Regions from separate parts of the Homo sapiens genome. Here region 2 is linked to region 1. Evidence: fine-mapped expression QTL. A gene starts in region 1. The other region holds a variant in brackets. All regions are shown on one strand. Distances are from middle to middle.

Region 1 (16,535 bases):
CAGTGTCAGAGCACTCAGTAGGAGCTAAACAAACGTTTACAAATTGACTGAAGGGTATGGGGGTAGGGGGTTGAGGGACATTTCCCTGCATTGAGGACCAGCCATTTAATTGGTGATACCAAAGCAATGTGGAGACAGAAGCAGAGTTAATCTGAACAGGGGCGTTATCTGGCAGGTACAACACAAAAGACAAGTCCAAGGGAGGCAAAGGTGCCAGTGGGAAGCATATTCCAGGTGTTTAACCATGGGCTTCCAAACTGGATAGAGACGCTCTGCAAGGCCAAAAGGTGTCCCTGCAGCAGGGAGGGGAGGGTGAGGTGGAACAGAAGGACTGGCACACTGTTGCTGTGAGGGGGAGGGGGCACTCTAATAGAAAGTGTGGGTATTGAGAGAGCTGCAAAGATAGGAGAAGAGACGGAGGTCCAACTACAGGATATGTAAGTTTTAAGATTTCTAACATGGAAAATTTAGGGAAACGACAAGATGCCAAATGAATGTTAAGACACAGTGGAAGCAGGCCGGGCGTGGTGGCTCATGCCTGTAATCCCAGCACTCTGGGAGGCCAAGACACGCAAATCACCTGAGGTAAGGAGTTCGACACCAGGCCAACATGATGAAACACCATCTCTACTAAAAATACAAAAATTATCTGGGTGTGGTGGCGGGTGCTTGTAATCCCAGCTATTGGGGAGGCTGAGGCAGGAGAATCACTTGAACCTGGGAGGTAGAGGTTGCCATGAGCCGAGACTGTGCCACTGCACTCCAGCCTGGGTGACAGAGCGAGACGCAGTCTCAAAAAAATAAAAATAAAAAAATAAAAATACAGGCGAAGCAAAGGTCACCCGGCTGCAAATGATTAACTACTCGAATGAATGTCTTTTAAGATTTTAAATACTACAAGGGCAGAGACAATCTTTTGTGTGCCACCCAAGCCCAGCACTTCTTAGGTACTTGTTAAATACAACTAAACTGAAGTCAAAGTTCAAATGTTAAAAATCAGATAGAAGTAAAACTGCCTTTGCAAAAATTATATCAGTGAAAACATAGCAGTGGGGAGATTTTAGCCAATTCTCTTCTTGCCTTTAGCTTTCAAGCTGCCCTTAATTATTCCTGGGCTTAAACCAAGCTAATTTTGGGAGAAATTTAGTTTATAGTTTAAATGGTAACAGCTCTTCCCCAAAATTCAACCACCTTTGTAAAGCTAATGAGGGACCACGAAGCTAGGCAACAGAGGAACCTGAATTCAGCTAAGGTATAGACATAAACAATTGCCAGCCACTATTCCAGAGGTCACAGGATATGCAACTTGCCCAATTACTCCCTCAGATAACATCACTACTGGAGAAACTAAGATTGGCCTTTTGAGATATCTGTTCAGGTTTTTTGGTTGGACCCACTGACCACTCCTGTGGCCTCACCCAGAAGCCACTCAGAGCATAGGAGTACCATTTCCCACACCCCCATGATTGTGCCCCCAACCAATCAGCAGCAAGCACCCATTGCCTAGCCACTCCCACCCCTTCCCCCAGACTACCTTTGAAAATAGCCCCCAAATGCTCAGGTAGGCTGATCTGGGTAATAATAAAATTCCAGTCTTCTGTTCCGCAAGATCTATGTGTGTAAAAACTCTTTCTCTATTGCAATTCCCTGCCTTGATAAATTGGCTCTATCTGGGCAGTAGGCAGGAAGAACCCATTGGGCAGCTAAAGAAGAAAAAGTCACAAAACTGAAATAAGATTTAAGTAAAGGTCTCCAATTTATGGGTTCAGTAATTATTTATTGGTCTAAATGATAAGGGTTCTCATAAACGATTAAGTCTTTAAGATTAGTAGCCGAAATCCCAACGGGGAAGGGGGTGGCAGGTATAAATATTTCCCAGACTTACCTTACTTTTATCTATAAAACAAAGTGATAGACAACAGAGCCTTGGAAACTGAGAGGAAATAAAAACACACTCAGGAGTGTTTTTTTCTATTCTCTTATTCAACACAACAGTCATCAACACAGAATACTTCTATGTCCAAATGTGGGCTCCCCCCGACACCCCAGTACACAAAGCAGTGGACACCAGCTGAGTGTCCTCTAGTTCAATTCAATTCTGACCTGGAGATAACCCCAGATCCCAAAGCTGAGGGCTCAGTCTCCAAGACCGCTCCCCTCTCCACCAGACACCAGTCGCAAGTGCAGGCCTCAGAAAATTCTAACTGACTGGCCTCAATTTGGGGTTCCCATAACCCCTCTTTGGGTTCAATTAACTTGCTAGAGCAGCTCACAGAACTCAGGGATACACTTACTTAGGTTTACCAGTTTATTATAAAAGATATTACAAAGGATATAGATGAAGAGATGCACAGGGCGAGGTACGGGGAAGGGGTGCGGAGCGTCCATGCCCTCTCTGGGGCGTGTTACCCTCCAGGAACCTCCATGTGATCAGCTGTCCAGAAGCTCTCTGAACCCTGTCCTCTTGGGCCTTTTATGAAGACTTCATAACATAGGTATGGTTGGTTAAATCATTGGCCATTGGTGATCAGCTTACCCTTCAGCTCCTCTGCCCTCCCTGGAGGGTGGTGGTGGGGCTGACAGTCCTAACCCTCTAATCCAGCCTTTCCAGTGCCCAGGGCCCATCCTGAAGCTACCTAGGGGCTGCCAGCTGTTCAGTCAACTCATCAGCATACAAAGACACTTAGCGCTTTGCAGATTCCAAGGAATTTGAGAGTTGTATGCCAGGAAACAGGGATAAAGACCATATATATATTTCACAACATCACAGAAGCTTAATCATAAGCCATCAATGTTGCAGTTCTTCTATATTCCTATAAGAACAGGGAACAGTTCAAGCTTCCTCACTGGATCAATTCTCTTTTGCTTTCCCTCTGACCAATGACTGTTTCAAAGATTTGGAGAAGTCTGTGAGCCAAGCCAGATCAAAGCCAATTTGGATCCAATTTGTTCATTAATGCATGCTGTCAACAAAAAGAGTCAAACTCTGCAACATATTTGAAGAGATTTATCGTGAGCCAAATCTGAGTGACCATGGCCCATGACACAGCCTTCAGGAGGTCCTAAGAACATGTGCCCAAGATGGTAGGGGTGCAGCTTGGTTTTATACATTTTAGGGAGGCATGAGACATCAATCAAAAAATTTTAAGAAATACATTGGTTTGGTCCAGAAAGGTGGGACAATTGCAGGGGGTCGGGGGTGGGGTGGGGGGTTGGGGGGGGTAGCAGGGAGTGCCATTCCAAGCCATAGGTAAATTTAAACATTTTCTGGTTGACAGTCGGTTGAGTTTGTCTAAAGCCCTGGGATCAACAGAAAGGAATGTCTGGGTTAAGACAAAGGATTGTGGAGACCCAAGTTCTTACTTTCAGAGGAAGCCTTCAGGTAGTAGGCTTCGATAGGTGGTAGTAAAACGTTTCTTATCGGACTTAAAGTCTATGTTAATGTTAATGTCAGAGAGGTATAACAAGTCATGTCCGACCTCCACTTCCCACTCATGGCCTGAAACTGTCTCTCAGGTTAAATTTTAAAAGACCCCTGGATGAGGAGGAAGTCCATTCAGATGGCTGGGGAGAGGGGGAAGCTTAGAATTTTATTTTTGGTTTACAATACATTAATATTTGTTTAAGTACTTAGGGATTCTGCAGTTAGCAAAATAGATAGGATCCCAGCTCTAGGAAGCACACATTCTAAAGGATAGAACCTACAACACCTGCTTCTTTAAAAGCATACTAACTAGAGGACAATTTATTATTGTAATGTCATGAGCACTTGCTTGTTAAAAAATTCCTTTTTTGAGATGGAGTCTAGCTCTATCACCCAGGCTGGAGCGCAGTGGCGCAATCTCAGCTCACTGAAACCTCTAGCTCCCGGGTTCAAGCGATTTCTCCTGCCTCAGCCTCCTGAGTAGCTGGGATTACAGGCACCTGCCACCACGCCCAGCTAATTTTCGTATTTTTAGTAGAGACAGGGTTTCACTGTGTTGGCCAGGCTGGTCTTGAACTCCTGACCTCGTGATCGCCCGCCTCAGCCTCCCAAAGTGCTAGAATTATAAGCGTGAGTCACTGCACCTGGCCAAAAAATTCCTCTTAATAACTTCTTAGAAGGCTAATACACAAAATAGCCACCTTTTCTGAATCCAACCAAACAAAATAACTTATTAACCACAGATTTTCCTACTGCTTTGTATTTTCTGAGGAAAAGAAACAGGTGCCAGGAAAGCTAAAAGGGATGTCTTTTGTAAGACTCTCAGGCCCTCCTACAGGGTCAATTTAGGTAGGCCTGCCCCAGTCTTCTAATTCTACATGCAAGATACATATGTATTACTTTTTCAAACAACACTGCTTCCTAAATAGAGGAGAACCTATGAAATGAGACCTGTGATTCTTTTTTAAAAACCTAGATGCATTTGGATAGAGGAAGGTGGGCCTGTGAACTCTAGCCCTGTAAGCAGGAAGGAAAGTTAAATAGTTCCTCATAATACAATTTAAAGATATCGGGTGGCAATTGTAAAGGAAAGAAAGAAGAGGGGAAGAAGGCCAAAGAGCCAACCAGATTACAAGAGCCTGGAGTCCTCCTTTCTTTGATGGTGGCCAAAATATATTTTAAGGATAGAAATGCCTAATATTCAATGTCAACACTTCTGATATCGCTCCACTGTGAACCCCTTCACCCTCCCCTTCCTCTAAATCTCTCATAAAGCTTACCATACTCATAAAGCCTTTCTGTGAACTCTTTTTCTTTTCTATTCTTTCCTAGCTCCTGTGAGACACAACTATCCAACAACTGCATCATGGATCTCTCAACCATCCATTTAGCACCTCCTTAGATTAGTCCAAAACTGAACTTATCTTCCCTTCTACACCTCTACCATCAATTGTTTTTAACTGCTCCTTCTCATATCCTCCAACATTCCACTAGCTCATTAATGTCATCATCTAAAGGAACAACTAATATTTACTGAGCACTTGGAATGTGCTAGGTACCCTGCCAAAGGCATTACATGCATAATTCCTCAAACCCTACTCAACAGGTACGACAATCATTTCCCAAATGTTAGGAAATCAAAGTTCTGTCAGGATAGTTATTCTAAGGGTAAGTAATAGAATTAGAATTTGACCCGTTTTAATTTCACAGCCAGCTTACCCAGTACATGTCAATCAATGCCTGAAGTCAAACAACCCAGGATTCATCCTTCCCTCCTTAAGCCTACCCAGTCACTTACCTAGTCCAGCCTCCTAGTCATACCTCTTAAACACCACGTCATTTCTCCTTCCACTGCCAGCACACTAGCATTTACTAAGTCCTTACTATCTGGCAATCACTATTCTAAGTAATAGACATGTTTTTTCAAGTTCTATCCCCCAAACTCTGAGATGACAAACCTAAGGAACAAAGAGGTTTCAGTGTATGACAGAGCCTGATTCCACCCCAGGTAATCTGAATAGAGAATCCCTGAGCACTTAACCCCTCCATTAGAACAGCCTCCAACTTAGTCTCCATATCGCCCATCTGGAAGCCCACCATCCTCCAGACGCTGCAGATATCTTTCTGGAATGCTTACCCGTTATCATGACATTCTCCTGCTTAAAATTAGCAGCTCAGTATCACTGACTGGATAAAGTCCAAATTTCTTAATCTGGTATAAAAAATCCTTCATTTTTCTGTTCAAGTCAATTCAGTAAATATTTTAGTGCCCAATGTAAGCAAGAAAAGGTGCCAAGTGTTCTGAAATGAATAATACATGTCCCTGACTACTACCTCCACCTCGGACACTGGGTCCTTCGGCCAGACAAGCCCATATGCAAAGCTCGTAATACAACAGCCCAAAGACACATACATTTATTTTTAAGTGGCCTGCGTGCTACGTGCCTACAATGTACGAAATCCCAAACCAATCTGAAGACTAAGTGCCTACGTAACACCTATTCTTACAGGTCTCCAGGCAGAAATGCTCCCTAAGTTCAAATTACTTCAGGGTAACTAGTGGGATAAAGGCATGGATCAGTTTCCAAATGAGAAAACTGGGCAAGAAGCAACCCCCGCCATCAATGGCTGGCATGCAGTAGGTACTTTATCAGTGGCTAAATGAATAAATAATGAAAAAATTTCAAAGTTGATGAGAGAAACAAGATATATGGAGAATGTAACACACAAGTGGGCCGAATTAAAAGTGATGTTATTCTACTTTGGTTCTCATTTGGCCTACTTTTACCCCATGGGAAAACTCACATGTGGGACTCGGACAAGCTAAAAAGCCAAAACTTTGTTATTCATGGCTCAACAAAGCTTTGACAAGCCAAAAAGGATACCAGATTCCCGCTTCCTTCTTTACCTGCCAAAGTCCATTTTCTAAAGAGGTGTGGGGGTGGGAATCAAATCTAGCAAAGTAAATAAAATTGATCTACTGAGATCCAACTTCATTAGTGCTGCATCGAAGTACATGCAAAAGAAATATCAAAACCTGTCCTGGGAAGAAGGCCAATTTACAAGTAAGTACTATTGCCGCAAGAATGTGAAATTCTTAAAGGCAGTTCCAATAAGCTGGAGCTCACAAGTGTTCCTCCTCCTGCACCGCCACCGCTTTTCACTCAACTTTGTTTCTGATTTCTGTGATTTTAAAAAGCATAATATACACAGCAAAGCCCATGCATAAGTGTACTTTAGCTCCTGGTACAAACGAACGTCTGGATTCATAAACTTAACGTAAACTGAAATACTAAAAGAAACACTACATGAGTCAAAAGTCCTTGTTTAAAACGTGGCATACAGCTTTGAAAAGCGAGTGATGTATTTCCTGAATGATGCTTTGTGTGCAACTGCTTCCAAATCAAGATTCATATTTTTAAATTACCCCCTGGAAGATGTCAAATCTCTCTCCCACCCTCTCCAGCCTAAAGAGAAAGGTGAGAATTCACAGGCAACAGGCTGGGGCGGAGGGAATGATCTCTCCCCATCCCTTTCCAGAGAACAAAACCCGATAAAGGCAGCTAGTGCCACTCTCATTGCCGACACCACACACACACAGAGGAAATTTAAACACTCACCCCACCTCTCCCTTCCCTTAAGAAGCAAACGACGCCAAGCTCTGCACCACGGTGGCCGGAACCAGCAAACGCTAACAGCCGGAGGCCGCCCGCCTCCCGGGCGCCTGCAGGCGGCGGGCACCGGGCGCCGACTCTCCCTCCTGGACCAGACCCACACCCGAGTCCACGCCAGCCCCGCAGCCCGGGCGAGCGAAGACAGCCGCGAAGGACCAAGGCTCCGGGGCGAGCTGTGGCGCCGCTCCGGCCGCCTCCCGGGGCGCGGCGCTGACCCACACCCAGCTGACGCCCGCACCTGAGGCGGCTGCCCGCAGCCAGCGAGAGGGCGCGCAGCGAGGCGGGCAGGGCAAAGTTACTCACTGGGAAAGCGCGGCTGCCCGGGCCGCGCACGGGCTCCTGGCGCCGCTGCTCGGCACCAGCTCCCGCTCTCCGCGGCCCGCTGAGGGAGCGGAGAGCCTGCCCGGCTCCGCTCCGCCAGGAATCGCCGCCGCCGCCGCCGCCGCCGCGGATTTCCTGGCAAAAAGCAAACTCCGGCCAAGACTTCACTTCTCAACCGCCCCTGCTGCCTTCCCGGGGGCAGCGCCAAGGCCGAGCGGCCCAACCCGCACCCGGGCCAATCGGAGGTAGCACAGGGCGGGAGGTGGGCGGACCAGAGGGCGGCTCCACCTATCCGAGAGCTCGGGAGGCGGGCCAGAAGGGACCCGTCACTCCCGGGTTAGAGTGAGACCACTCCGCCCTCGCCGCCCGCCTCCCCCACTCGCCCCGGGCTGTCCCCGCCGCCCGCCTGATTCCCCTGCGGAAGCCCCGCTGGCTAGGTGTCTGCGCGCACCCCCGGCCGCCGCCAAGAGTGGCACAGCTGGGGAAGGAGTGAACATCCAGAGGAATCGCGGGGCGGGGTGGGGGGAGGCCAGGAGAACAGGTGGCGCAGGGAAGCAGAAACGTAGTTGCGCTGGACAGCTGGAGTCGGGCAGGGTCGGGGCCAGCGGCGAGGGGACAAGAAGGGCCGATTCGAGAGGAAGCGCACCTGAGGGAGCACAGCGAAGGCCGGGACGCAGGGAGCTGGATGGAGAGCGAGCCTGGGCGGCGAAAGGTTGCCGAGGCGGGGGCTGGGCGCCTGGGAACAAAGGTGAGGGCGGGTTCCGCAGGTGAGGAGGTTTGAGGAGCCACTGGGGAGAAAGGGAAAAGGAAGTCTACAGCCGGAGAGGACGCGCTCTGGGGGTAGAAGGAATCCTAGGACGGAAAGGATAAGGTGGGAAACAGTTTTCTCCCAAACTCTCACTCCCCCAAAAGAGACATTTCTTTCTTGCCCTATTTTGACCCAGTTGAAAATGCAACTGCAAGCTCCCCGGTGAAACAAATACCGCCTTCAACCTTCGTATTCTGTGGTGACTCATCTCGCACGTGACCCCCCTCCCTCTTCAAGGTGTGTTGACCGACTACAGTTTAAGCCTGTCGTCCCACAAAAGGCCCGGGAGGGCCGGGGTCCCAGGAAGGGCCATCCTGGGTCAACACCGCCCCAGTTGGGAAGTCGGGCCGCTTTCGGACTTGCCACTGGGAAGGGAAGTGATTTGGGGGCGGCAGGTAAGGCCGCGCCCCTTCGCCATCACCTGGGGAAAGGTACCAGAGTTGAGCCGGGGCGCCCGCAGGCCTGTCTGGGCCTCGGGGTAAGGCGGCGCTGGCCCCGCCCCCTGCCCCTCCCGCCGCGAGTGGCCTCGCGTGGTCGCCCAGGTGAGCCGCGGGGCCGCGAGCCACCGCTCACCCCGCGTCGGGGCGGGGGCTGGGGGTGGAGCCTCATGCCCCGCCCCGCGGCTGGGCCCTGCCGCGCCGCTGCGGCTCCTCCTCCCTCCTTCCGTCCTCCGCGCCTTCCGTCGGTCGGTCCTTGCTTCCTGCTTCGCCTCCGCGCCTCGCGCTATGGGACAGAGCCCCCGATCCGCCAGCACCACCTGAGGATCCAGAAACCGCCCCAGCGATGGAAGAGGATCAGGAGCTGGAGAGGTAACGGCCGAGGAGGAGGCGGGCGGAGCGGGCCGCGCCCAAGGGGAGCGGGTGGCCGAGGGGCACGCTGCCTGGCCTGGCAGCCGGGGCCTGACTCGGGGCGCAGAGAAGAAGCATGGAGAGAGAAGTGGGGAGGAGACATGAATGTGTTTCAGTTGAGAGGCTGAGAGGTACACTAGCTATCAAGGAGGGAAGACAAGTTGGGAGACCAGAGTTAAGTATCCGAACTGCCCACCCCCGTTACAACAGCAGTGTGTAAAAATCACGCCCCGGGCCTCTGCTCCTGAGGACGGTACTCGTGCCTCTGTCCCTGTAACTACGGCTCACCTTCTTTCTATGTGCAGACTGCTCCTAAAGCCACTCTGTGCGCTGAGCTCTTTTTCTCCCTGCTGCTTGACTCCTGAACCTTCCATTCTCCTAGTTTCCTTCTCTTGCAAAATGGAAGCCGTAGTTGGGCCTGCACATTGATCATCTGTATCCTCTATTTTTATACTAGAGCAATCGGGATTTCTATGCCTTTCAACCCTCTCTTCATCCTCTAGCAGGACCAGTCCTATTCTAATCCTATCCCTTGCTTGTGACTCTACCAAAAAATATTTTTGCAAACACTTAAGTTTGTGTTTTTCTAAGAAAACTCCCCTTGTGGCCAGTGTGGATGGTCAAATGGAGCAGGGAAAAACTGGAGGCAATAAATTAAATATTTATTGATAGAGTTTGTGGAGGCAGGAAAATGAGAGGCGAATAATTCTGTGTAGCTGGAGTAGATTAATAATAATGTGTTGCAATGTGATATAGTAAATGAGAAAAAGCTAGTTACAAAACAATATTCAGTATGATCTCATTTTTATAAAAAATATGTGTGTAGAAAAATATCTGGATTGAAGACCTCAATGGCTGAAGGCGAGAGGAAGACAGCCCTGGAAATGGTCCAGGCAGCTGGAACAGATAGACACTGTGTGACATTTGTATTGCACGAGGAAGACCATACCCTAGGAAATTCTCTACGTTACATGATCATGAAGAACCCGGAAGTGGAATTTTGTGGTTACACTACGACCCATCCTTCAGAGAGCAAAATTAATTTACGCATTCAGACTCGAGGTACCCTTCCAGCTGTTGAGCCATTTCAGAGAGGCCTGAATGAGCTCATGAATGTCTGCCAACATGTGCTTGACAAGTTTGAGGCCAGCATAAAGGACTATAAGGATCAAAAAGCAAGCAGAAATGAATCCACATTCTAGTCCTTTATGCAGTATACAAGGAGAACTGTCCTGTAGGATATTCTCTTCCTGATGGTGCAGAACCCAGAATTAGAAGTTTGTGGTTACAGCATACTCTGTCCTTCAGAAAGGCGTGATTCTAGCTGTTGACCCCTTGCAGCTGTTGGAATCTCTGCAAGAACCTCTGTATTCTTCTAATAAATTCCCTCTTTTATTTAAACTAGTTTGACTGGTTTCTGTTCCATGCAACCAAATGGTCCTTGAGGATGACTTTTTTTCTAATTAAGCCAGCATTGAAAATGAGGAAACTGAGAATATCAGAGGCCTAGACAAGAACTGTGATCATGGGAATTAAAAGAAGTATATATCCATGTCTGTAGTTGGAGTGGTGGGGGTAAGGGAAGAGACAAAAACCATGACCCCAGTTAGATTGTTGTTTAAAAACAGAAGGAAAGAAGATTGGGGTGGGGACTTGGCTTCTTGCTAAACTTTTTGGCTTTTAAAGAATTGCATCATTTGCTGTGATTGGTAGACTTGGCAAGGGTGGGAATAATTTGGAAGAAGTGTGAGAATTCTGGTTTTACATGAGAGTTTTAGGGAGTAAGGCTCCATCTTTGAGGCATTTACAGGAAAGATACCAGTTTACTGCTTGAATTTTGGGATATACTTAGTCATGATCTAAGTAAGGTAAGATGTTTTGATTATATTACAGAAGGAGAAAATTGGGATGACTAGAAAACATTTTCAGTCCTTAAGTAGGTATAGCCTAGGGTAATGTAGAAGAAGCCCTATTTGAGAGAAGGTAAAGCCAAGGAGAAGGAAAATTCCATATAGGGGAAATGACTGTTTTGGAAAACACATATCCCACCCGCCAGTGCTCTGTGCTTTGGGCCCTTGTTTATCTATCCCCTCTTCCTGGGCCAGTCTTACTCCTGCCGTACTCTTAAGTCAAAGCTTATGTGTCAGGCCTCTCAGCCTAGTTTGGGTACTTCTTTGTGCTTTCATTACACCCTGTGTTTCCTGGCCTTGGCATTTACTATGCTATTGGTAGTGCTTATCTTGTTTACCCACTAAACCAACTTGGAGGTCAACATGATTCTGGTACCTGGAACACCTGACAGGTAGTGGACACTTAGTAAATACTCTATGAATTCATGTAAGTAGTTATGGCATGCAGCTTTTCAGTCACTCAAACCTGACCTCTTACACTAGCGTGCCATAGAGCCTACATTTCCTACACTCAGCCAAATTCTTTAAAGAGATATCCATATTTTTGAGCACTAGTATGTTCCAGGCCTTGGGGATAGATATATAGCTATAGTGGATGAGACAGAGTAAGTCCTGTTCTCATAAAGCATGTGTTATAAGAGCCCCTTAAAAAAAAATTGTGAGGCTCGGCATGGTGGCTCACACCTGGGAAGCCAAGGTGGGAGGATCACTTGAGCCCAGGAGTTTGAGACAAGCCTGGGCAACATGGGGAGTCCCTGTCTCTACAAAAAAATAAAAAAGGTAGCCAGGCATGGTGACACATGCCTGTAGTCCCAGCTGCTTGGGAAGCTGAGGCGAGAGGATATCTTGAACCTAGGAGGTTGAGGCTGCAATGAGCCATGATCACACCATTGCACTCCAGCCTGGGTGACAGAGGGAGACCTTGTCTCAAAAAAATATATAAAATTAAAAACTTGTAATTCTGTAAAAGCAGCAAATGTAGGGTCAAGATAGAAAACATAAGAAAGGAATCTACTTTAGGCACGGAAGTTAGGAAAGGTGTTCTAGAGATTACAGGAAGGGAGAGAGCTGGCTGTGCAAAGAGGAGAGAAAATGCATTCTGGGGGTATAGCATGTGCAAAGGTCCTAAAGCAGAAAACTGGTGGCATGAGGAACTGAAGATATTGAACAAAGATTTGCATGTTTTTGTAGCACAGTAGACAAGGAGAAGGGCCTGTCCTCTGGAGTCCATGGGAGGAAGAGTTGGGGTAGTAGGGATTTTGGATTTTAGGTTCAGTGGGAATGACGTCTTCTTTACTTTGATTACAGAGTGGGGGGAGATGAATTATAGGGAGGCTGGAGTAGAAGCAGAGAGAGACACTATAAAGAGTTGAAGTGGCCTGGAAGGGTAGAAGCTAGTGATGGAGAAGAGAAGGTAGGTTTGAGGTATATTTTAGAATTGAATTGGCACAGAATTGGTACACTTCAGGAACTGTGGAAGATGAAGAATCAAAGATGACTACTGCCTAGCTTTGGGGCCAATTACTGAAATTGGGAAGCTTAAAATGGAAAATAGATTGGGAGGTGGAAAAGATGATAGGAGTCAAAAGTTTCATTTGTGAACATTGTAAGCAGTGGCTATGTGAGTTGGAGATCGTGGAAGAGATCTAAGCTGGAGACAAATTTTATGAGTCCTTGCCATAAAGATGACATAAATTGATTAAAAAAAAAAAAATAGAGGGTGACAAAGAAGTGGGCCCAGAACAAAGCCCTAGGCAACTTCAGTATTTAAAGTTTGGGTCAAAGAAGAGTTAAAGATAAGAGTATTTGTAAGTTTGGGTCAATGTAATGGTAGGAAAGTGCAAAAATAGGGTGTGGAAGCCAAGGGTTTCAAATAGGGAATAGAAAAATGTCACCTGGAGTTAACGTGGAGGTCACTAGGCAGTAACAGCATTAGTTTACTGCCTAAGAAGAGTAAACATTACCACTCATTATACAGAGGAATGGCTTAGTTTGGTTTTCCAATAAAAGAATCACATGAAGACATTGGAAGAGGTGAGTTTAGGCGGGAGCAGGGATGTCATAGGGCAAGGATACAGCATATTCTCTTATGGTGACAGTAAGAAATTCTGGAAAGTCAATGTTTGTTTAAGGGCATTAGCCTTTGAAGATAAAAGGAAGCTCAAAAAGGATGTGGAAAAGGATTAAAAACTTTTTTCCTCTCCCAAAACTTTGCCTGTGGGGATAGTAAACAGAATTACTTACCTGGAGTTTAATTCCTCTAAACCAAGGCCTGTCAGGAGATGAAAACAAAGTTTAATTAGTGGACATCAAGGTACAGACTGATGATAGTAGATGAAGTACAGTGGGAAACACAGCCAGAGGCGACCGCTCACCACATCACAACTTCATTGCACCTAAAAGAATTTAGACTGATCACGTAGAATGCAGTCTTGAATGTCTTTAGGGTGACCATAAACTCACGGGTTCATACAAAACACCTGCAGAAGGCAGTTGGGTGGAGGGAAGAAACTGAGAAGGGGGCAGGCAGGTTAACCAAGAGTCTTGTATATGTGAAAGGAATCTGCATAAAGTCTGTAGGGACCTGAGGGAAAGCTGAGTTGGTCCAAAAAGGACTAGGGAGATGAATGTGAATCTTATACATCCTGTGAAAAGTTAATCCGCATCTGATTTGCACTCCAATAGCATTTCATTCTAAATAAACTCATGCCAGTGATTCAAGATCAGAAATTCTCTTCAGCTGTAAAGTACTGTGACTTTTAAAAAGCTGATTATTAAATATATACCAAAGGCTTTTAACATGTAGTAATTCTGAGTACTTGCTGGTACTTTCTATTTTCAAAGTACTTTACAAGCTAATTATTTACAAATTGCATATAGCTGTAACATCTAAGTACTCTAATTAGTTGGCATAATGCACAGGTTCACACAGAATCTCGAGAGATGGAAAGGTGTCTACAAAGTGGTCTCTTCAGTACTGACCCAAAGAGTGTCTTGCATCTCAAGAGATAGGAAAGCATATCAAGTTCCGTGGCCTACCACTCCCCACTCTTCTTTTAGTTTCCCTTAAACACGTTATTCAGATTTTAGATGGTCTCCAGATCACTAGACAAAAGTCTTCTTTTTGGTTAGCGTAATTTAGAGTCATTCTTTGTAACAACCTTTAAACTGGTCTCTTAGGAAGTTTACCCAAATCTACCCATCTGCTTTCAAGTACTTATTAAGACCCCCAAACCCAGCCTTTTCTTGCTCAAATTCTTAATGTTGCTATTTTCTTTTCCTGCTTTATAAACTATCCTGGTACAGTTACTGCGTGGGTCTGGTTTTTTTTTTTTTCTCATGATGAAATTCTTCTCAAACTTGGATTATTAGATCTCTAATTATTTAACTATACAGTAAGTATGTACCTAATAGTAGCACAGTCCTGAGAAATGGTGGAAATAAGAGACTATGAGTCTGTCCTGAAAACCCTTCTGTGGTTTTGGAGAAGGCAGACAAGAGCTGTACACATGAAAAAGAAAACCAATTGTATTGACAATGAAGTGCCCGAATGTGCAGTGTGGAGTATTATGTGATGAATTCAGAATGGGATGGGTGAAAGGCACTGCTGAAACATCTATTCTTTCATGAGCACTCATTCTGTTGGCCAGTGAAGATGGCAAATAAGAATTGGCGGCTTATGATTAATAACAGGAATAAATGGTTTCCTTTTTTCCAGTGTAAGAGAGCTGTTAAAGATTCTTGAGCTAGAACTGCCGTAAAGTTTTAGTTTTTTTTTTTTTTTTTTTTTTTGTCCCATGCCTGTGTGCAGAATGGGTGAGTGGAAGGAAACTGGAAGACAGCAGTGAACTGGGGACATTTGTAATAGTCCAGGTATAATGTAAGGAGGGCATACTTGTAAGAGAGGAGATAAAAGGATGGATACAAAAAAAAAATGCTTAAACAAAAAAAGTAACTTGGAGACAGATTCTATAGAGGGGTAATAGAAGAGTTGTAGATGACCCCAAAGGCCCCATATCCAGGTTCATTTACCCCTTTGTTTATCCTACCATTCCCTCACAACCAAAAACCAGTAAGGCAGGATTTATCATTTCTTTTCTCCAGCCTGTCCTTACTAACGGGAGTTAGTGGGTGCAACCACCCTTACCTCCTTCCCCAACCCATATCAGAAGAATTCATGTATTTTACAAGGATATGAATCCAGGGCTACAGATGTGAAAATTGAGAGTTAAGAAGAGGCGATCAGGGCAGTGAACAGCCTGGCTCTTACGGTCTGCACTCACCAAGCTGCTTGCTTTACAGGGAATGTTTTCATTAATTGGCTCTGTAAATATTGAGCACATACTATACGGAGGCACAGTTTAGGGGCCAGGATACGGCAGTGAACAAGTTGGCCCACATGCAGTTTATTTTCTGATGGCAGAGTTAGACAATAAAGAAACATGCAAACATTTAATTTCAGGTAGTAAACTAATGATGACAAGGAGAAAACACTGAATAGTTAAGGAAGGCCTTTCTGAGGAGGTAACATTTGAGCAGAGAAATACAAGAAGAGAGAGACCAAGGATAAAAGAGAATGAGCCCAGAATTTTTTTAAAAACCTGAGCTTAGATTATTCAGCAATGAAAGAAAAATTATGAACCTTTCTAGAGGAATAAATTGTATATTTCAGCCTTGTGTTTGTGACTTTTATTAGTGCCTAAATTTATATCATCTGTTTTTAATCTGTATATGTATTTACCTAACAATTATAGTAAAGAATATTGGACTACTCTGTGGGAAGGAGGATATGTAGGATATTGGAGTTGTTTTCGATTGGCTGATACATGTATGTATATTGGAGGGGCTTATTTTAATTGAACTTTTTTATTCTTCTTTTGAGACAGTCGCACTGTTACCAAGGCTGGAATGCAGTGGTGCAATCTCAACTCGCTGCAGCCTTGACCTCCCAGGCTCAAGCAGTCCTCCTACCTCAGCCTCCTGAGCAGCTGAGACTACAGGCATGTGCCACCATGCCTGGCTAATTGTTTGTTTTTGTTTTTTTGTGTGTGGAGACAGTCTCACTATGTTGCCCAGGCTGGTCTTGAACTCCTGGACTCAAGTGATCCTCCCATCTCAGCCTCCCAAAGTGCTAGGATTATAGGCGTGAGCCACTGTGCCCAGCCAAAATAGACCTTCCTTAGGAACAGAAATTGATATGTGTGGAATCTTGGGTATCTTTTCAGTAAGCATAGGCATAGCAAACTTAGGCAGTATAACATTGGAATTTAGAGCTGTTGGACTCACAATGCCTGGGTTTTGATCCTGGCTCTAGACGTTAGCCATGTGACCTTGGACATACTGTTTGATCTCTTTGTGCCTGAGTTTCTTCTTCTGCAAATTGGGATAACAATAATACCATATAGGGATGTTACAAGTGTTAATTTAGATAATATTCAAAGTGCTTAGGACAGTACCTGAACCATAAAGCATACTCTCAATCAATGTTAGCTATTAATGTTATTATTGTAATATCATTGATGTTGAGCAAGCTGGGTTGGTTTATATTCC
Region 2 (16,535 bases), 30 kb after region 1:
CTGAATTTAACAAAATGTGCAGATTAATTTATTGTGCCTTTAGTTTATGTCTGTGAATAAGTCTTTTCATTTCCCAAATAACCTCAGTGTTCCTATTGAGTTTTACCTTGTCTTTAAAAACGCTTTTCACAATTTGAATTTTTGTACCTTTCTTTAGAGCTGATACATGACCCCAGACAATCTGATATTTTACTGAAATTAAATAAGGATATTTCTGAATTTTTGCCTGTGTCTGTAGTCAAAACACTAAGTCATAAAGAACCCAAACTTTGTCCTGTGGTTTCTACAGATCCCTATGACTACTAAACCACTAGTTACTACTGGCAGTGTGAACCTATAAGCAGTGGTTTGCAGATGTTCAGAGTGATCTGATCATCTGTCTATATTTTTTTAATCAATGACCTGACATCAAAACTTTACTGAAGATCGAGTAGATAGTTCCATTTTTCTCTCTAAGCTTTATCATTCCATTATGGGAAGAAATTTAGATTGCCATAGTAAGGTTTCTTTTACACGTATGTGGACGACTCCACAAGTATAAACATGTTTGCCTTCAGCACTGATAATGTGTTGGGCCTTTTAGATAACTTCCCAGTCAACAGCAGCAAATGATGCTGTACTCATTTCTGCCAATTTTCTAAGAAGTCTGTATTCTTGTCACCAAGTCATGCTTGTTTGAACACATCAAGAAGAGAGTAGTCTTATTAAGCAATGTATTGCCTTTTTTGAACCTGTTTTTCTGTCCATCATGTGACAGATACTGTACTATACAGCTAGCTGATCAAAGGTGACTTTTAAAGACTGAGAGAGACACAAATGAGGAAAGCTTCTAACGTTCAGCCTTGTGTTCCTAGCTTTCCTTCACCATCACAGGAAGAGGCCTATAGTTCCCTCTGGCTGACTCCATCATTTTTGAGCAGTTATTTGAGATTTAGCTTCTCTGATTTTATTCCTTTAAAATTCCTGTTTTCCTACTTTATTATTTAATTTTCCTCTCAATTTCTGGTGCTTTATTTCAGTTGCCTTCAATTTCTTGCTACCCCTTCTGTACACTGGAACAGTTAACCCTCAGTTGATTAAAGTGATTAAAAAGAAACAGACCCAGATAACTCAAAACTAATTTGTTTGACTTTGGATTTTAAGATGATTTTGTACCAGATTTGCATTCCTACTTGGGTTTTATTTAAGCTGCTATTATGATCAGTTGACATTCCTTAAGCATGTACCAGCTGGCTAATGGAGTGAACAGGCAGGCCTGAGGAAGCTGTGCTAGTATGGAAAATTGGCTGGAGATAATACACACATGGATCATTGAAAATTGATTGTGGTTTGTTCCTGTGCCCAGAAAACCGTCTGCTTAATGACTCAGCTCTCTTGGGTCTCCATGGAACTTAGTATTCTAATATAATTAATTAGTTTTACAAAGAAACCTTCAAGATATTGAAAAGAACCAAGTGTAAAAACTAGCATACCAAGAACTAAGTTTATGTCTGAATAATTTTTTAATTGTTCAAGTTCTGTATATACTTAGTTCTTATATATTCTCCTATTTGCTTTTCCTGTATTTTAATTACAGTTTATACTTCTTTCATCACCTCATTAAAAACTATCTTGTTTCATGCATGTTAATGTTTCATAATCTTTGATAATTTAAGTTATTTTGCCCCTGTGATCATGTAGAATAGAAACTGGATTTATAATTTCCTTACCCAATAATTCATTAATGAGATTTCTAGAGGAAACAACAGAGGCTACAGTAATGGGGAAGTTGCTGACTTTCTCCCCTTAATTTTGAAGGTAGTTATAGTGTTTTAAGGTTGGGATACTTGATTGCTAAGAATTGTTTTCTTCTTTGGAAGTAAAGCTCTGTAGAGGGAGCTTATGCAGGAGACTTTTGGGTGGGAAGTAGCGAATGCTCAACATTCTTAGGACAAAATAGTGATCAGTCCTCCTTCATTCCTTCCGCCTCTCCAGTATCAGCCTATCCCCCAGTTCTCTTTGAATGAATGCAGTAGTGGCACTCTGTTAGGCCTTTTTTTTCCCCATTTAGTTTATTTTTTGCCTTTTAATGATAAACAATTTCTCCAGGATTTGCTGCGCAGATATTTGTGGAGGAGATAGTCTAATAGAAGGATCAGATGATACCTAGCCTTAAAAACAGAGGTTGGGTTTTGTTTGCTTTGTTCCTCTTCCTCATTGCCCTTCTCCTTGATCGTTAGCAGTGTTACTTTGGGCAAGTTAGTCGATGTCTCTGAATATCACTTTCCACATCTGTATTGGTGGTAATAACTATGTTATCATGGTTATATAGAATAGTACTTGGTATACTTAAAGCTCTATATCTTCATTAGTTGTTGTTAAACCAATTGCAGATACCTAACTTGGGTAGATCCGAACCATGGGAATGGGTCACGCTGCACCACTTTGGCTGTGAACAGCAGCTAAGCCCCCTTTACCAGTGGGAACACGGTAGACAAGCTGACTGAGTGCCCTCCCACCCAGTATCTACTCCTCCTTTTATGGTCCTCCATCCTTGGTGAATTTGTTTCACCGCAGGCAGTCTTTCTCATACATATATCTTCTTTTCTCTTTGTACTCGTAAACCAGAAGGCATCCTTAAGCGTGCCAGGTAAAATTAATAACAGTGCTAGAGACAGTTTTAAGTAGAATCGAAACTAAAGAAGAGTCACTGTCAAACTTCAAGCTCTTGAAAGCACCTAGAATATGCCTTCAGGGTCTCTGCAAGAATCTTTACTGAGTATCTTCTGCAGATGTATAGCATTTCAGCTGGATTCTGACTCAAATAAGTTTCTATAGTCTGGTCCAGAAAGCTAGGCAAACATTTTAACATAGTTTTTATGGGAAAACACATTCTAGTTTATTTGTAACTGATACATATTTTGTTCATAATTGGGGAACTGCCCCAAAAAGTTGTTTTCCTGATTATTTTTAACCATTTCTTTTGACAGAAGGAGAGCACATAGGTGGATCTAGGTATGATTTATCTTTTTATTTTAAAACTACCACACTAATTTATGGGAAAGGAAGAGGCATATTTGGAATATTTATACCCTTTAATTTTTTTACTTAAATCTATAAGGGTGAAAAACAATCTGTTTTGGACCTTATTAGGATAAATTTTGCTTGAACTGTAAGAGACAAAGTCCCCAGATCATTTCAGCAGGCCATATCATTATTCTAAAGAGCTGGAAGAAGCAGCATATGTGGTCATCAGATGAACTTACCTCTTTGTGATTCCATAAGAGGTTGGGCTGCGAAACTTGTGATTGAGGGAGTCAACATGTCAGTAGATAGGCAAGCGCTTTAGTTTTTCATTGATCTGTAGCAGTGGGCCTTCCCAAGAAGGATCAGAAAATGTCAAGCTGCTGAGTTAACTGAAAAGACATCTTTTAAAGATCTCAATAAGAGTTTATTTTAAAATGAGTTACACAAAAATAAGCAGATGTATTTTTGAAGATTAAGAGGTGGTGAAATAGTTTGAAAGCATAGTATTAGGAATATGGAGGTAAATAACGAGAAACAGATGAAAAAAGTTGAAATTGTTTTCTTTGGTGGGTAGGGCAGGATAATTTAGAAGACTGTTGTATTTAAAATCTTTTAAATAATATTTGTCTTTTTAAACTATGTGCATGCTTTACTTTGATAAAAATCAACATGAAATAAAACATTCTTGTAAACAGAATGTTAATATCATTTGAAGATTATATAGTATATGGTAGCATTATAATAGTGTCATAACATTTTAATATAGACTCTATATAATTATCCAGCTTCAAAAATTCATGATTAGATTTATAGTTCTGTCTTTGGACTATATTTGTTTTGGACTATATTTGTTTATACCTCTCTTTTTCTTAACTTTATTTTTTCTTAACTTTGTTATTGATACATCATATTCAAGTCAGGGACGATCATCTTCCTATGTTGCTACCCATAGCACCTTGCACAGTATCTTACACATAGTAAAGTCTCAGAATATGGTTGATAAATATGTTTTCTGTTTTTTTAACCTCTTCAAAAATTACACAAATAATACATGTTCATTGTAGAAAAAATAGAAAATGCAGCAATGCAAACAGAAAAAATCACCTTAAAACTCATCTTACTGTTTTGATAACATCCCTCCAAATTTTTTTATTATTATTATTTTTATTTTTTTTAGAGACCAGGTCTTGCTATGTTGCCCAGGCTGGTCTCAAACTCCTGGCTTCAGGTGATCCTCTCACCTCACCCTCCCAAAGTACTGGGATTACAGGCATAAGCCACCACACCTAGCCGTCTCCAAATGTTTTTCTATGTAATATATATGTAAATAAATTTGAAATTAAGGTTATTCTACACATATTCTTTTGTACCAGCTTTATATACTGAATATGTTATGAGTGTCCTGTGCCAAAAATTCATTTGTCTTCATTTTTAATGACTGCCTAATCTTCCACATATGTGGATATGTTATGATTTATTTAACCAATCCTTTATCAGTAAATATTTAAGTTTTCTGTTTTTTCTTTAATTGTTAACAAGTAGTTTGAATATCCTTGTACATATACTTTTCCATACTTATTTGAATATTTTCATAGGACAAAGTAAAAAATTTTTAGATCAACTGGTATATACTATTCTTAAGGTTCTTTATTATGTTGCTGGATTGTCCTCCAGAAATGTAATATCAGCTTCAGTCCCCATTAGTAGAGAAGAAGTTATCCATTTCTCTACCCCCTCACTAACTAATGGGCAGAAACATTTATCCTTGTTGAGTTCACTGGTATTTCTTTGAATAACAGTGAATTTGAAAAAATATAGATATATACATATTTGGCTGTTCATGTCTTTTGGTTATTCAAATTAATAAGAAAAGATAATTCTTATATTAAGGATATATGATTTAACTGTCTCATATCAAAAATATTTTTCCAGTTTGTAATTTTTTTCTCTTCAATGTTGCTTCTCTTTATATTAATAGTTTCTTTTTAATTTATGTGTTCAAAATTGTCAACCATTTAAAAAAAAATTTGCCCCAGCAATCATGCTTCAAAAGTTAGTTCCTTTCCCAAGATCATGGACCTGGAATGAATTGATTTTCAGAACTTAGTAGGGTGACTGCCTCTCAAATCTTTTCCTTTTTCTTATCAGGAAAGCAATAGAAGAACTGCTTAAGGAGGCAAAACGTGGGAAAACTAGAGCTGAAACAATGGGACCCATGGGTTGGTAAGTTCTTTGAGTAATCTTCCTTAAAACTTAAGAAAAAATTCTTAGCTGGAGATATAAATATGTAAATCTTTAGCATATAGAGGAAATGGGAAACCATGGAAGCAGAGGAAATCTCTCAGAGACAAGTGTAGAGTAAGACACTGCTGAGAACTGAATGTTGAGAAACTCTAATAACATGAAGAAATGGGCAGCAGGCGCCTATGGAGGATACGCAGTATAGGTTCATTGTCCCTTTAGTTCACAAGTCTCCAAGAGGTATTTAGATACTACTGTGCGCAAAGTCACCTGTGCAAGAGTAATATTATGTTGGTGTTCATTGTTTAAGAATTTCTAGTTTACTTATAGTCCTTAGTAAATTAAAATTTATTTTAGGAAATTAATTTTAACTGTAAGCATTTTGATTATGTGACAATTCAGCCATGTAGAATTAAAGATTACCTTTGCAGATTATGTACAAAATAGAGCTTGTTAAAACTTAATAATATGGGCTGGGCACAATGGCTTATGCCTGTCATCCCAGCACTTTGGGAGGCCAAGGTGGGAGTATTGTTTGAGCCCAAGAGTTTGAGAATAGCTTGGGCAACATAGTGAGACTTCATCTCTACAAAACAAACCAAAAAAAACACCCTTCTAGGCACTACTTTAGTGATGCCATTTGCATTTGATGAATTTGTTGATTCTGGAATTTATATCTACAGTTAAAAACGTACTGCAATGGAATAAGGAGGGTCATTAAAAAGAGTAAAATGTAAAAATGTGAAAAGAGTAGAAGCTAAACTTCTGAACATAGCTCATTTTGTAATTTTGACATTTAGAACCATGCACATAGTTCACCTAAATTCCAAGACAAAAATTAAAATGGAAAAGATAATACCTAAAAATCAAGCAAAATAAAACATGGACCTGATAAACCATTGAGTGGATGGCTTAGCTACATGGAAAGAAACTATTTCAGGTGATCTGGAATTTGACTATATTTCCAAAAGATAAAAAATAACTACAAAGAAATTGTTTTCAGTCATCATATTGTTAGTAATAATATTGGTATTGCTATTCTGAAAATATTATATAGTAGGATAAAACAAGCAATACTTTCTATATATAAATACCAAGATTTAACATGAAAATTTTAAAGAGCTACAAATATAAAATCAAAGAAATAAAAACCTACCTATAATCCTAAATTTGAATTGGAAACATCAGTATGAGGTTGTGCTAGATTTTCTCTTAAAAAAGAGAGGGAGAGAGAAAAGCTTTTTCTAGTTCTCTTCACAGAAAAGGTCTAGAAACAATGACCACCCACCCAGTAGCAGTGAGCACCCCGGTGCCAAAACTGTGTTATGTAAATACCATTTCTCACTGAAAGGAGAGCGGAATCCTTAGAGTAAGAACTGATTGCAGACCTGAAGCAGTGCCCAGAGTTAGCCAAACTGCAAAATTAGAGGTCACAGTCCCCAAGACTATCCTTACTTCTTATTACCAACCACAAGTTCAGAGGGTTCCCCCAAACTACCACGCTTAGCTTCAATAATTCACTGGAAGAACTCACACAATTAACTGAAATCTGTTATACTTGTGGTTACAGCTTATTACAGGGACAAGATACAAACTAAAATCAGCCAAAATAAGACACAAAGATTAAAGCCACTGTTATCCTCTGCTCCGTGAAGAGGACATGCTACCCTCCCAGCATCAGTGTGTGATAATAAGCATGGAATATTGCCAAGCAAGGAAGCTCATCTGCGGCTCAGCATTCAAAGTTTTTATTGCGGTTTCATTAAATAGGTTTGAAGTCATGATATGCTACCCTCCCAGCATCAGTGTGTGATAATAGGCATGGAATATTGCCAAGCA[A/G]GGAAGCTCACCTGAGCCTCAGTGTTCAAAGTTTTTATTGAGGTTTCATTACATAGGTTTGATTGATGGATGGATGGATGGATGGATGGATTACATGACTGATCTCAGTTTCCAGGTTGACTGATACCACGTAACCCAAAGCTCTCACCCTAAGTCACATGTTAGTCTCTCTGGCATGGCCAGCTCCCACTCTAAGACTCTTAGGTGTGACCAGCTCCACCCTAAACAAAGACATTTCTATGACATTACTTTCTGGAAGCTAAGGCAAAGGCCAGCCCTCTCTTTGGGCCAAACCAAACTCTTGACTACATGGGCAGGAAATGTATAAGAGAAGCTGGAAAATCTTGTCACACCAGAAAGCAAAGAAACTGTCAAAGACCAATGTACTCATTTCAGAAAGACTCAGGACCCACTTGAAAGGTCTCCCACTAGTCAAAGATGATATAATTTGATTTAAAAAACAAATAAATGATTAAAACACCTAAAATATGTTAAAATCTGTAAGGTCATAATGATAATCATAATAACAAACCTGGTAGTCCCTTTTATAGGATGCTAGAGCACCAAATCACTATTCACAAAACTGATAAATAGGAAGAAGTAAGCATTTACCCTGTTCCCTGTACAAATTATACTTCAAAGTCACCAATTAATTGATGAAAGAAAACTTTACAGAAGAATTGTAACTAATATATTAGAAGGATTATAGAATAATATTATCATCATTTGAGTTTCAACACATTCATTAACCCTTATACCACAGAAAGATGCAAGAAGAGCAAACCACCACCTCTGGGGCATCCTTGTCAAAAAATTGAACCTGAATCTGATCAAGTCTCTAGTTAGAACTACTAGTTTGCAAGAAATACAGAGGGCAGAGAAACATGTTAAATGACACCATAAGGCTGCAATCACAAAAATCCAAAATGTGAGAAATGCTACAGGACAAAGAACCCAGTTTCTTTAACAAATGAATTGCAAGGAGAAAAGAAAGAAGAGTATGCTGTGAATTAATAGATTTGAGGAACATCAAATAAAATGGGTACCTTGTTTGTGTCTTTATCCAAACTAACTGTAAAAAGTTATTCAACAATTGAGGGTATTTGATGATATTAAGGAACTGATGTTGATTTTTTAGGTGTGATAGTATTGCTGTTATTTTAATTTTTAAAAGCCATTATCTTTTAGAAATGTATTCTGATATATTTATGGATGAAATTATATAATGAAATAATCCAATGTGAGTCAACCTGTATCTATCAAGTGTAATCATCTTAGCTTCAGTAAAATACCTAGTAAATAATAGATATATTATTTTAAAGTGAATACTGAAAAAAATGCTCAGCTTTAATTTTGAATATTTATATTAATAGATGTAACCCACATAAACAAAAGCTCTTTGGGGTGTCCACAATCATTTTTAGGAGTGTGAGTGTAAAGTACCCTAAGACCACAAAGTTTGAGAACCACTATTATAAGACAATTGAAAAAAATAAGAATGCCAGCAGGAATTATTGTCTTATAGACTCATGGGAAAAGTGGGAGGATGATAGTGAAAATCTGGTGAGATAATGTGTATGAAAACACCCAGCATGGTTCCTGGCATGTAGCAGTTAGTTAGTAAATATTAGTTAAATCTGCTCTTCTTTCCAGCCCTCCTCTGTGCTTTACAGAAATAAGGTGCCTCTACTATTGTGAGTCAGATTAGTATAAACTATTTAGGCACAGGGTGCTTTGGTTTCGGATATAAGGCTGTACCTTCATCAGGCTGTCAGTAATCATTGGTCCAATCTAATACCTATTAGAAAGACTCAGCATAGAGTTAAAATCATGCAATTTACAAGTGAGTAAGAAAATATCAATTATAGTTCTTGCTCTGTAAGGAGCGTTCAAGGGGATTGGTTGTTTCTTGCCAGCTCTCCAGATAGACATCATTTATCCTGACAACTTTAGTACCACCTACTGGCTTCATAAAACTTTCTGATAGTAAAAGAACTAGTGTATCAGTGCTAGTTCTGCTCTCCCTGGGGAAAGTTACCATGTGCACCAGACTGTCTTGAGATTTGTGTGGGCATTGATGTACTCTTTAGGAATAACACTGGTTAGGTTGGTAGTTACACAGAGTTACTGGGGACCCAGGCTCCTTCCAGTTTTCCAAATCTCCCAATCATAGGGTATGACTCTTTTCTACATAGTCTAATATAGTAACAGACACTGAGTCCACATTTCAGTTAGCAGAAAGGAAGGCACACCCCTTTCCTTTAAGAAAACTTGCCATGACTGGGCGCTGTGGCTCACGCCTATAATCCCAGCACTTTGGGAGGCCGAGGTGGGCGGATCACTTGAGTCAGGAGTTTGAGACCAGCCTCGCCAACATGGTGAAATCCCATCTCTACTAAAAATACAAAAATTAGCCAGATGTGCTGGCACACGTCTGTAATCCCAGCTACTCAGGCTGAGGCAGGAGAATCACTTGAACCTGCAAGAGGGAGGTTACAGTAAGCCGAGATCACACCACTGCACTCCAGCCTGGGGGACACAGTGAGACTCCATCTCAAAAAAAAAAAAAGAAAACTTGCCAGAAGTTGCATTTACCATTTCTTTTTTTTTTTTTTTTTTTTTTTTTTGAGACGGAGTCTTGCTCTGTCGCTGGATCTCAGCTCACTGCAACCTCTGCCTCCCTGGTGCAAGCAATTCTCTGCCTCAGCCTCCCGAGTAGCTGGGATTACAGGTGCCCACCACCATGCCTGACTAATGTTTGTATTTTTTTTTAGTAGAGATCGGGTTTCACCATCTTGGCCAGGCTGGTCTGGAACTCCTGACCTAGTGATCGCCTGCCTTGGCCTCCCAAAGTGCTAGGATTGCAGGCGTGAGCCACCGTGCCCGGCCTGTATTTACCATTTCTTCATGTACCCCATTGGCCAGAATTTAGTCTGATGTCTACATCTAGCTGCAAGGACAGAAATTTCATCTTTTTTTTCATAGGCAGTTGCGTGGCAGATAAGTATCTGGGGTTCTTTGACTACAGAAAAAAGAAAGAGCAGATATTGAGGGACAACTAGCAGCTTCTTCCCAGGTATAGGGAAAAAGCATGTTGAAAAGGGAGTAAATAAAAGATGGCAGGCAAAGTAAGATACTCCAGATTGTAAGAGGTGGATCCCGTGGGAGACTAGGATGTGAAATTACACTTTCCCATGAGTCTGAAAGACACGAATTCCTGCTGGGATTGTTACTTGGTTATCTCAATTGTCTTGGAACAGTGGTTCTCAAACATCTTAGGATACTTGCACTCTTACGTTATTGAGAACCCCAAAGAGCTTTTGTTTATGTGGGTTATATCTATCAATACCAATGTTTAAAATTAAAGCTGGGCAATTTTTAAGTATTTATTCATTTTTAAATAATAAATCAAATACATTAAGATAAATAACATTTATAAGAAAAATAACTATATTTGCAAAACAAAATGCATTGAGTACAGTAATTTTGGAAACCTCTTTGATGTCTGGCTTATAGAAGACACCTGGGTTCTTATATCTGCTTCTGAATTCGATCTATTGTAATGTGTTATTTTGGCTGAAGTATGTGAAGAAAATACTACCTTACAAAGATATGTATTTTCAAAAGGAAATACATATCAGAAAGTTTAACAAAGCCAGTAGGTGATACTAAAGTTGTCAGGATAAATGATGTCTATCTGGAGAGCTGGCAAGAAACAACCAAGCCCCTTGAACGCTCCTTACAGAGCAAGAACTATGATTGATATTTTCTTACTCACTTGTAAATTGCGTGATTTTAGCTCTATTTCAATAACTTTTTCAGAAGACTGTAGATATTCTTCTTTGATACTACATCAGAACTTTGCAAGTAACTTCAAGTAGTAATTTCGTAATATTCTTTTTAATAATGTGTACTTTTCCTATCCTATTACAGTAAAAGCCCTTTATATAATATCCTTGTACCTTGGCTGGATCTTCTACTTATTCTTGATTTTGTAACATCATCATTGGTCATCTGGAAAATATTGGTTCACTGAGTTATGAAGCTTCCAAATGTTGACACGTGTCATTATATAATATTTTTAAAATCACATTTGTAAATATCATCACCAATCTCATCAGATCAGTCTTTTAAGTGTCAAGGGAACCTGTCAAGTTCACAGTTTGCCAAAATTCTAATTTTCTTTCATCTGGAAGCTCCAGTTATATATTGGCAATGAATACTGGGAGTTGTTTTCCTAGAAGTGACAGGCCCACCCACATCTGAATAACCAGCTAGTTCACTTTGCCATTCAGTCACACAAGTACTTTTCCTTGAGGCCTCCATCATAATCTCAAGTACCAGAGTGCTTTGTATGTATGTCCCGTTTATACACATACATTATTAAAAAGACTGATGCTCAAGGGTAAAAATTTAACAAAATTAATAATTTGCACTGCTTCATCAAGGACATTCTCAAGTAAAACTGGCCATTTTTAACTGGAAGTGCATGGTGGTAAAGAGTACAATGACCACTGGTACAGTTTTTCATCACTGCCTTGTTTCTTGCCACTGTTTTACTTGTTGCTTTTGCACCATCAGTGCAAATGTCAACCTTCTGGAGAAAAGCAAATTATATCAAAACTATGGAAATAGCTTTGACTTTGTAGATTGCCTCATGAGTCTGGAGGACTCTCAGGGTTCACGGGTCACATGGTGAGAACTGCTGCTTTAGATAGGTGCCAGCAAGCAAATACAGCAAAACAAGGAAAATAACTAGGAGGAGAAAAAAGGAGACAAAGGGTCATTTGTTGAAGATAGGATGTCTACCCATAGTGGTTTAGCACAAGATAAACATTCAAAATCAATTCCTTATACAGTCAATAGCCCACTAGAAAATATAATGAGAAAAAAGGACATTGTTTGATTATCTATGATTGTGTGGTATAGTATATTTACATGTAATACACAAACATATAATTCTTGGCTGAACCATGTGAAAATTAATTGTAGGCATCTTGATACTTCAGCCCTAAATTCTTCAGCATGCAGATCTCAAAGACATTCTCATGCATAACCACATTGTAATTACCATATCAATGAAATTAATGTATAATTTCATATCATCATCTAACATCCCAAAAATGTCTTTTATAGTGGTTGCCTTTTGTTTGGGATGCAGATTCAGGATCCAGGCAAAAATGTTCCACATACTGGATTTGCCTTATTATGTTTTCTTGATTAGATTCAGGTCAAACTTGTTTGACAGGAAGGAATATTACACAGGTGATGTTTTTATACGTCTTAATTACAACAGATCAGGAGGACTTAATGTCAGGTTGCCCTTGATAAAGCTGGTGACTACCAGATCTCTCCATTATAAAGGTGCAATTTTTCAGCTAAGATATTTTTGGGAGGAATGAGATGAGAATATTGCATGCTCAATATAATAATAGTATGTAAATTTATAGTAATTAGTATGAGATTCGTGTAAGACTAAAGACATTAGTGAGAGAATAGAGAATCAAGAATAGAGACTGGGGGAAGAAAGAGGCAGGAGGAAGGAAGGGAGTGGAGAAGGAAAGAAAACAAAAAAAAGAATGGAGACCGACATATGTGTATGAACTAACTGTGTGGAAAAAGGTCATTGTTCATACTAGTGGAGAAAGGGTGGATTATTTAGTAAGTGATGCTGATACAGTTGACTATTCATCTGTAATACTGAAAATTAAAAACTAAACATACAAAATATGAATCTTATAGGAGAAAATACAGGATAATATTTTTATAATATTGGCAAGGATAAGGTAGAAACCTCCCTCAGCCAGGCACAAAACCTAGAAGCTATGAATGAGACAATGGCAGATTCAACCATGTCATAATAATAGTAAACTTCTACATAGAAAAAGATACCATACAAAAAGTTAACTTGTGAAAAGACAAGTGGTAGACTGGTTGAAATTATTTGCCATATATAACAGACAAAGGACTAATACTCTAAGTATTGAAAAAGCTTCTACAAATCAGTTTATAAAAAGAAAACCATATCTGTGTGTGTCTGTGTCTGTGTATGTGTATGTGTATATATCAAAACTACAAATGGCCAGTAAGTAAACATACTAACACATTTATTGAGTACTTAGCAGAGCTAGGCTCTGCTATTTTGACACTCATGTATCTGTAAACAGAATGACAAAGATTCCTGCTCTCTTGGAATTTATAATCTAATGGGGGTGGGAGTGCATGCATAGGTATTTATATTCCTCTTAAATAGCACTTAAATTTCACCATTAGATTGGCAGAAATGAAAGAGGCAGTAATCCAGTGGAGATGAAGGGATGTGGAAAGGGGTGCAGTGTTGTGCTTCAGGCAGTGGTGTGGTTTGCTCTGTGCAGGGCCATGGGCAAAATGTTGAGTCACAGTTCTCTGTGCCCCTTTACCCAGGATCTCTGCTCCCAGTAATCCCTCTTTCATAGAACTTAATAAATGTGTGCAGACCTAAGTACAGAATTATTGTAGCACATTTTGATAGTAAAAAAAGGGAAGCAGTCCAAATGTCCATAGATAGGAAAATGCTTAAATAAACTGTGGTACATCCTACTGTTGAATATTTTACAGTCACTAAAAAGAATTGGTCAGCACTATATGAATCCTTGTGAGAAAATATCTACTATGTATGTGAAAACCTGAGTTGTGGATCAATGCATGTAATCCTCTATTGGCCAGGTCAGGGAAGGCCATGGGACCCCGTAACGCATAAAGGTCTGTGAGAAGTTAGGCCTCCTAACAGTGAGCACTAAGGGGAGCATGAGAAGCAGGGAATGCTATCCATTGTAACCCTCTACCAGGGGCTCTGTTACAGTAATATATAACAAATATGTCTTCTATTTATCACTTTTTAACAGAGTTTTTTTAATTAGAAAATAATCTGGAGAGGTTTTTAAAAATACAGATCTCCAGCCAGGCGCTGTGGCTCACACCAGTAATCCTAGCACTTTGGGAGGCCGAGGCAGGTGGATTGCCCGAGCTCAGGAGTTCAAGAGCAGCCTGGGCAACACAGTGAAACCCCATCTCTACTAAAATACAAAAAATCAGCTGGGCATGGTGGCGCCTGTGTTCCCAGTTACTCAGGAGGCTGAGGCAGGAGAATCACTTGAACCTAGGAGGCGGAGGTTGCAGTGAGCCAAGATTGCGCCACTGCACTCCAGCCTGGGCGACGGAGCAAGACTCCATCTCAAAAAAATAAAAAATGAATAAAAAATAAAAATACACATCTCCTTCCCTGCCTCACTCTAGGGCATTCTGATAGAGAAGTCTAAGATCGGTCCTACAGGTTTTTTGTTTGTTTGTTAGTTTTTTAAGCTTACTAGAAGATCTCATCAATCAAGTTTGGGAAGCACTGCTCTGAACAATTGAGCAAGTCAATCCCATAGAAGACTTCACTTCATTAAAAATAAAAAGTTTATCTGCATTTTTCTCTATCTCTCTCATAATGTTCACATTTTGATTCTTGATCTGTGTTGCTCTGGAAGCAGGAATCTCTGGGTACTTGCTTATTCCAGGGGCAACTGTTTTTTCCTAGCCAGAGTTCAGTCCAGCAGTTCAGCACACCCAAACAGATATGGGCTATGAAAGGAGGTCTGGACCCATGACAACCGTGGCTTGCTTCTACTCACTAGTGCTGGGACAAAGGGCACCTGCCCTTCATCTGCTCGTTCTGGAAGATCACCTGGTTTCCATTTATTTAAATAAGTGTATGTGAGAAACTTTTAACCACTAGTCATTAGTTCTCAAATTTATCTGCACATTTGGAATCACCTGGAAAGCTTCAAAAAATACTGATGCCTGTGCCCCACTATCAGTGATTATGAACTTGGGGTGTGGCCTGGGCTTTGGAGTTTTAAAGAGCTACCCGGGTGATTCTAAAGTGAACACAAATTTGAAAAACATTTTACTAGTCCCTTTTGTTTTATTAAAAAGAATGATACCAGCCTGCTCTGCAGAATCCAGAACAATCCTACACCTCGGCCAGAGGCAGACAGCTCCTCTGCACTGAAATAGCACTTAGGTAGCCTGGCCAGGTGTTCAGCCACAAGAGTCCCAAGACCCATCGCTGTGGAGTGGACTTCTTGGACAGTTCTTAAAAGAGTAGCAATCTGTTGTTCACTAGTGGCCATGGCCTGTTTTTTTCTAAGTATCTAGAAGACCTTTTATTTGCTTTAAAATTTAAAATAGAACTAGAGTGAGTGGTATTATTTTTTTCATTTTGGATATTCCATAAGAAATAGATGGTTGAGCAGTTGCCAGAGAGAGATTGCTGATCTAAAGAAAATGCAAGTGGGATGCCATTTTTTATTTTATAAAGAAAGAGACCATTTGGTGCTATATTCTTCCTTGGATGTATTTCAGCAAAAGAATCTCTTTAGAAGCTGTTGTTGACAGATGCTTTAGGAGAAGCTGAAATATTGGCTCATATGACTTCCTTTTAGTCAACATAAAGGAATTTATAAGCATAAATTTCAGAAATTTGCCCAGCTTCATTGTCTACAAAGCTGTTTTAATTCTGGTCACATTCACTTTAGCTTATCTACTGCCCAATATAATTTCTGAGTCTAGTGCCTGTGGAACTTCAGCCTTATACTTGGAAAAGCTTATATTTTGGCAAAATAAATCCTAAAGGTTGAATTGAGAGAAAATGATTCTTGAGTTCTCTTAACCCAATTGTTTTAAGGGGAATGACTTTTTTTTATGCTTTTCTGTTTGGATTGAGAGTCAATCTAGAGATATGGAAGGAAGTCACCCATCTTGTTCTTCCAGTTTATGTCATCAACTGTTGATTATTGGAAACTAAATAATTTCTCCAGTCTTTATCCAGACATGTGTTTATTTATTTATATAAATATTCACAGGGCACCAGCAGGTATGTTAAGAGGCTGATCATGGACAGCAGTAAAGAAGACTCACTTTCCTGGCCTTAAAGTTTTTAATCCCCTGGTGGATACAGAAACAAGCATCAAGTGATCACAGTGTGGCATGCCACACTGACTGTGTTAGAACCAATGAGGAGGGGAGCAAGGGCTCACATCTCAGACGATTCGTGGAGGAGGCTCTTGGCAATATTTTCAGGCCACAGAGATCCAAAGCCTTTATACGTATAGAACATGAAACCCAAAGAGTTTTCCTAAAGCCCTGGCTAGCGAATTGCTGATGGGACTATAACTTTGCTTTCCTATCTGTCACTTAACACTCCTTGTATGGCATCACTTCTCTCTGTGGATTATTGTCTGATAACATGCTGAAATGCCAATGCTTACTGCCCCTGCTTCCCACATTCCTTTCATATCCAGTTATGAAAGTGAATGAGAGAGCCCTGAATGTGTTACTGTTAGAGCACATATCTATGTAAATGATTTGCGTTGCTGAGGGAGCTGGAGGCCGAGGATTATAGCCTTGCAAACTGTCTCAGTGTG

The links. PIP is the estimated chance that this variant, and not a neighbour inherited with it, causes the effect.
Region 2: its variant is the best candidate, but not a certain one, in a credible set for the expression of POLR1D in whole blood (TOPMed, PIP 0.55).

The regions. Positions count from the first base shown.
Region 1 is chr13:27,612,974-27,629,508 of GRCh38, forward strand. It overlaps POLR1D (RNA polymerase I and III subunit D), which reads left to right and starts at 8,919. Exons shown (of 2, transcript NM_015972.4): 1 at 8,919-9,036; 2 at 9,902-10,476. The coding sequence starts at 9,011. The coding sequence ends at 10,277. It overlaps LNX2 (ligand of numb-protein X 2), which reads right to left and starts at 7,556. Exons shown (of 10, transcript NM_153371.4): 1 at 7,402-7,556. RefSeq lists silencers at 7,106-7,995, 8,616-9,175 and an enhancer at 7,584-8,312.
Region 2 is chr13:27,643,225-27,659,759 of GRCh38, forward strand. It overlaps a transcript of POLR1D not described here. Among named protein-coding and RNA genes, the nearest start is that of POLR1D, 30 kb to the left of the region's middle. The variant A/G (reference allele first, on the strand shown) is at 7,087.